Regions from separate parts of the Homo sapiens genome. Here region 1 is linked to region 2. A link means that fine-mapping ties the variant in region 2 to the expression of a gene that starts in the linked region. Tissue or cell type: whole blood. Region 2 holds a variant in brackets; the other region holds the start of a gene. All regions are shown on one strand. Distances are between the middles of the regions. Region 1 holds the start of MYO7B (myosin VIIB). Region 2 overlaps MYO7B (myosin VIIB).

The links. PIP is the estimated chance that this variant, and not a neighbour inherited with it, causes the effect.
Region 1: it holds the start of MYO7B, and the variant in region 2 is fine-mapped to the expression of MYO7B in whole blood (INTERVAL, PIP above 0.99). The same link has a PIP of 0.9 or more in neutrophils, prefrontal cortex and subcutaneous fat.

Annotation. Positions count from the first base shown.
Region 1 is chr2:127,533,969-127,536,868 of GRCh38, reverse strand. It overlaps MYO7B (myosin VIIB), which reads right to left and starts at 1,186. Exons shown (of 48, transcript NM_001393586.1): 1 at 1,038-1,186. RefSeq lists an enhancer at 304-1,154.
Region 2 is chr2:127,637,173-127,640,072 of GRCh38, reverse strand. It overlaps MYO7B (myosin VIIB), which reads right to left. Exons shown (of 48, transcript NM_001393586.1): 48 at 2,347-2,757. The coding sequence ends at 2,656. It overlaps LIMS2 (LIM zinc finger domain containing 2), which reads left to right. Exons shown (of 10, transcript NM_001161403.3): 9 at 1-3; 10 at 645-1,647. The coding sequence ends at 792. Among named protein-coding and RNA genes, the nearest start is that of GPR17, 7.5 kb to the left of the region's middle. RefSeq lists enhancers at 434-1,379, 1,380-2,326, 2,327-2,900. The variant TGTTG/G (reference allele first, on the strand shown) is at 1,607.

The DNA of each region.
Region 1 (2,900 bases), 100 kb after region 2:
GGACAGACGTAGGGCCCCCAGCAGGTCCAGGGAGATGGGGTGGGCTGATGAGCTGAGTGGTTCCTAACAATGATTCACTGAGGGTGTGTGTGAATCTCTGAACTAAAATCCTAAACAAAGTGCAGGGTTCTGATAAATTAGAGCAAAATTCAAGTCCAGGGTTACAAAGTGGAGCCTGAAGGGGAGGCCTCGTCATGGAGAATTTGGGGGATCTGGGTTGGGGGCCCCACACCCACCAGCTGTCTGACCTGGGCCAGCTCTCACAATCTCTGTGTCTCAAGTTTCGTCCTCTGTGAAATGGGGATGGGACACACACCACCTGGACAGCTCAAGGGGGACAGCCCATGTGAGCCCCGGTGCGGTCCCTCTCCTCAGCCACCTCTTCCCCCACCCCCCCCCCCACCACACCCCAGACCTGTCCTGCCTCTCCCTAGGGTCCCAGCCTTCCAGAGGTGACTAAAGCCAATTGCCCAAGGTACATGGGTAAGGCGGATAAGCCTGGGCTTTGGAGTCGAATCCGGCTCTGCTTCTTCCCGTGGGCACCTTCGCTTCCATGGTCCTCAGTCTCTGTGTCCATAAAATGGAGGCAATTCCACCACTGTGTTGCGAGGACGCAGTGGGATGTCACACACGGCACAGCTGACATCTGGCAGGGGCTCATCATGGGACCCAGGCTATCCATGATGTCCCATGATTCCACAGTGAGGCCCTCTAGCTGTGAGGAGGCTTCAGGGTGGGAGCAGCCTTGGCACCTGCCGTTCCCCTCCTGCAGGGAGTTTGCCCTTCTACAGCAGAGGGCTAGACAGCTTCTCCCCCTCCTCCTCCTCCTCAGCCCCCCAGGTGCTGCCCTTCAGCCCGATGGACTGAGTCCCCTGCTGCGGTTTCTGGTTTCCAGGCTCCTGAAGGGCTTCTCCACTCTCTATCCCTCAGACCTGTTCCATCTTATTTCCAGGGGACCTGCCTCCTGCCCAGCGACCCTCTTCAGAGAGGTGACCCCCTACTCCCCGCTGGCAGACACGCCCCCGGCACGCCCTTACCTTGTCAGGATGGGGGTCTGGCTGACTCCCCTTCCCCTCCACCCTGGGCACCCTGAAAGAGCCAGGAAAGGAGGCAATGTTGGGACTCCGGGTGTGTCAGGGAGTAAGGGACAGAGGAAGAAGAGGTAGGGCTCCAAGAGGAAATGACTGGGAGCACTCTGGGCCCACGTAATTTATTACAGGACTTTGTCCCTGGGCTCCAGGCACTTCCACTCCCACACGCCTCCCTCAGCCCCAGCTGGCAGAGCCTCATGATACCTGCTCTTTAACCCAGGCCCCTTCTGCAGAGCAGCGATGCATGCTGCCCGGAGGCCACCAGGGTTTGCAGTCTGTGCACCTGCTCTGGCCACCAGCCAGATCCCATGGTGACAGTCAGCTGACCATCCGGGGGCTCAGCATCTTCCCAGGTGCTGCATGGCAGGAGCTCTGCCCCCAAGCACCCCAAGCTCTAATTGAGGGTGGTAGTATAATATAAAATACAGTATATTTGGTCCTTGTTCCCGGTTGGTGTCACAGAACTCCTAAAACCCTTAGAATTTCCAAAGTGATCGTCGGGCATGGTGGCTCACGCCTGTAATCCCAGCATTTTGGGAGGCCGAGGCAGGCGGATCACAAGGTCAGGAGATCAAGACCATCCTGGCTAACACGGTGAAACCCCATCTCTACTAAAAACACACACACAAAAAAATTAGCTGGGCGTGGTGGCGGGCGCCTGTAGTCCCAGCTGGAGGTTGAGGAAGGAGAATGGCGTGAACCGGGGAGGTGGAGCTTGCAGTGAGCCAAGATCGGGCCACTGCACTCCAGCCTGGGTGACAGAGCGAGACTCCGTCTCAAACAAACAAACAAACAAAAAATTTCCCAAGTGATCATCTCATAATGAGTCCGTTTGATAACACCTGAAGTTATGCTGAGGAGGTGACCATGTGGGGGCCCTACCTAGCCTCAGCATGGGGTCAGTCACCAGAAAGACCTAGTGAATAGAGGGTTGGAACTTTCAGCCCCGCCTACTGACCTCTGGGAAGGTAAAACTCTTGAACAAGATTTGACAAGCTTCCACACATCTGAGGTCCCTGGGGGGTGGCATGCGGGAGAGGGCATGGAAGCTCCATGACCTTCCCACACAACTCACCTGTGCGTGTTTATTCGGCTGCTCATCTGTAATCCTTTGTAAAATCTTTTCCCACGAACTGGTCAATATGAGTGCCGTCCTGAGTTCCATGAGCTATGCTAGCAAATCCAACCTCAGGTGTGGGGCATGGGAACCCCGATTTATAGCCAATTGGTCAGAAGTATAGGTGGCAACCTAGGACTTGAGACTGCATTTGAAGTGGGGCAGTTTTGTGGGACTGAGCCCTTAACCTGTGGGATCTATGACTCCAGGTTGACAGTGTCTGATTGAATTGAATTATAGGACATCCAGACGGAGTCTGCTGGAGAACTGCTTGGACACCTGGTCAAGAGAGTGTTCTGTGTTGAGTGTGAAAGGAGCATACACCTGGGACATGTCTGGGGCCATCAGGAAGCCTTAGAGACAAAGGCCATCAGACAACAAGGTTCCCAGGAGGGTACCTGGCAACAAATTGGGCAGGCTTGGGCTGGCACTTGATCAAGGGGGATTTGGGCTTAAGGCAAATACAGACTGTTTAGAAGGGAAGTGCAACCGCAGTGGGCCCTGGGTGGGGTCAGACTGGAGGGGCCAGGCAGTCCCTGGAAGTGAGCAGGAGGGCGAGGGGAGCTCATTTATGCAAGGCTTTGAAGGCGGGTGGATAATAGGGGCAGGTAGTTACCTGGTCAGCCACAGGCCTTGTGTTGGGTAAAAAAGGGGTCTGGTCATCCTTACAGTTGGCCCAACTAGAGCCAATC
Region 2 (2,900 bases):
GAAGTGAGTCCCTGTGATCGTGGGATGGGGCTCAGGGTGGAGGGGGCTCCTGCAGGTCCTTCCTCTCAGCAGCCCTCCTGCACACCAGCTGAGTCTGGCCTGGGGATATGGTGGGGACAAGGGGCAGCCCGGCCTTATACCACCCAGGGAGATGGGGGCAGGTTCAGGGGGTCTAGGGGATCCAGGGACCCCAGGGACCCCAGGCACAGTGAGAGGAGGAGGAACACTCATGCCTCCAACACACCTGCCAGAACCCTGGGCTCTGGGGAGGGAAGGGCATTCCAGCTCAGGGAACAGCATATGCAAAAGCAGCAGTGTCAGCTGCTCATCCAGGAAGCCTCGAGGGGTGTGGGATGGCTGGAGCTGGGAGAGGAGAGATGGCGTCCAGGTTTCCAAGGGCTGTGGGGAGGCATAGAGGGTTCTGGGGTTTCAGAACCTGAGAGAAGCCTCTGGGAGGCAAGGGAAGCCTCAAGGCCCTTCTCATCCCTATGCTCTCTGGCCATCTCACCCTAGGGCCTGGCCTGCTGGCTAGGAGAGGCTGGTGTGGGGAGGCTGGGGGCTGAGGGAAGCCCACTCCACAGTCACCTGTCTGGGGTTAAAGGGGTGGGCGTGGGGCTCTGCTGACAGCTCAGCTTCCTCCTCAGGAACAAGTTTGTGGAGTTCGACATGAAGCCCGTGTGTAAGAGGTGCTACGAGAAGTTCCCGCTGGAGCTGAAGAAGCGGCTGAAGAAGCTGTCGGAGCTGACCTCCCGCAAGGCCCAGCCCAAGGCCACAGACCTCAACTCTGCCTGAAGGCCCTCTTGCGCAGCTGCCTCTCGGCCCCTCCGCCTTCTCCCCTCCTGCTGTCCATGCTTGGCCCCCTCGTCCCCATCCACCTGTGCCCTCCGCATCTTACCCTCCCTTTCTCTTTCCTCATTGCCTTCTCCCTTCCTGTTCCCTCATCTCTGCCTTCCCCATGTCTCTCCTCTCCTTGGCCGTGGCTTCTGTCTGTGAGGAGGCAGGAGCTGGGGAGTGGGAGCCTATGACCCCACGTCTGACAGCCATGTCCACCTGTGCCCACAGCTTCCGCCCACAGACCTCCAGGGACAGGAGCAAATTGCACCACAGCTCCCCGCCTGGCCTGGCCCTCCCCAGGCGGCTCAGTGGCTCATGCTGTCCTGTGAGAGCCCCTGCCCCAGAGCGGCCCCACTAAGCGCATGTGGCTCCTGGGCTACCCACAGCCAGGGCAGCCTGCTGGAGCCACAGGGCCAGGGCCATGCAGATGGAGGCCTCTGGGAGCCACCTCCAATCCCTCACCACTCACTCAACCAGTGGCACAGTGTCCTTGTGCCCACACTGAGCCAGCAAGTCCTGCTGTCCACACCCACAAGCTACCTGGAGGGACAGGACCCACCTCCATCCTTCGGAAGGCCTTCCTGGAATCCCACCTTGGCCTCCGCCCTCGGTTCCGCCCCGCCCCTCTCCCCCCGACCTTGGGGCTTGTGTCGAGCCCTTGGGTGGGGCCAGGAGGAGGTGATGGCGTCAGAGGAGGTGTGGTCAGAGGTGACTTGTTCCCACCTCCAGGGAGGACGCTTCGTCTTCGGCCAGCGCAGACCTGGTGTTTGTT[TGTTG/G]GGCTCACGCTTGCACAATGAAGGCTTGTTCACACAACCACAGCAGCCTGCGTGGTTTGTGGCGGGGGTCGGGGGTGGAGGGGATGGCAGCAGCTCTGGACACGCTGCTGCTGGGGCAGTTGAACAGAGGGACAGACATAGACAGGCACGAGTTCAGGGGGCCCTAGCCTCTATCCCAGGCCAGGCTGCCATAAGCAGTTGAAGACTAGCCCTGCCAGGTCCTCACAAGCCTGGGTGGCCAGGTCCACATAAGCTGGCCCAGTGGGCAGAGGAGGAGGTGGGCAGGGACAGGGCATGCCAGCGAGGTGGGGGAATCCAGGCCTCCAAGGTGCTATGTCCAGCTCTGCCCACTGTCTGTCTGGGCATAAGCTGGCCATAGCATGAAGCCAGCAGCCAGAGAGCCGCACCTCCACCCTGGCCTCCTGGGGGTAGCGCAGGCGTATCAATGCCCCGGGTGGGGAGAAGGACAGAAGGTGTGAGGAGGGGCCTGGGAGGAGAACTCTCCCATGAGTGCCCCTCCCCAGTCTGAGAAACAGGAAGGAAGGAAGGGAGGGGGAGGAAGGAAGCAGAAAGGGAGGGATGAAGTCATTTCTGGAGAATGCAGCTGCCCTCCGGGTTCCCTGGGGGAGTCAGTCACACGGCATTTTGGTTTTTCTGCAGCTCTCTGCGGGCCAGAGCCTCCCAGGCCCCCTGTCCACCTTGTGCCACACCCTGCTCCCTCAGACAGACACACTTCTCCTGCTCCAGGAGTTTTTATTGAACATTCTGGTGGGGTGGGGTGGGGTTGGGAGGTGTCCTGTCAGTCAGTCATCCACCAATAGCCTGGGGGTCCGAGACTCCCGACCCCATTCTGGGCCCGTCTTTTGGCCTCCCTGGGCAGCGCCCAGGACAGAGGGGGCCGCCTGCGGGGCTGAGTGGGCTTTGTATGGGGGGCAGCATGGAAGGCTGCCCGCCAAGGACAGGCCCTGGGTTGAGAGGGCCTGGGAAGGTGCCGCCAGGCTAGAGGTCGGGAAGGGCGCCTGAGCAGACACGCCAGCATCCGCTGCTAGGTGCTGGCCAGGGCTGGGGCCTTGGAGCCCCGCTGCTTGTTCATGGCACTCAGGAGCTGCTGCACATATGAGGTCAGCAGGTCATCCATCTTATAGCCCTGGACAGGGGACGGGGGGGTCAGAGGCTGTGGGTGCAGAGGGCAGGTGGGGGTCCTGGACTCAGGGACCACCTTCTCTTCCTCAGCAACCAGCAGTGCAGGGCATGGAGAAAGGGAAGGCGGGCTCCTGCCATTGGGGCCGT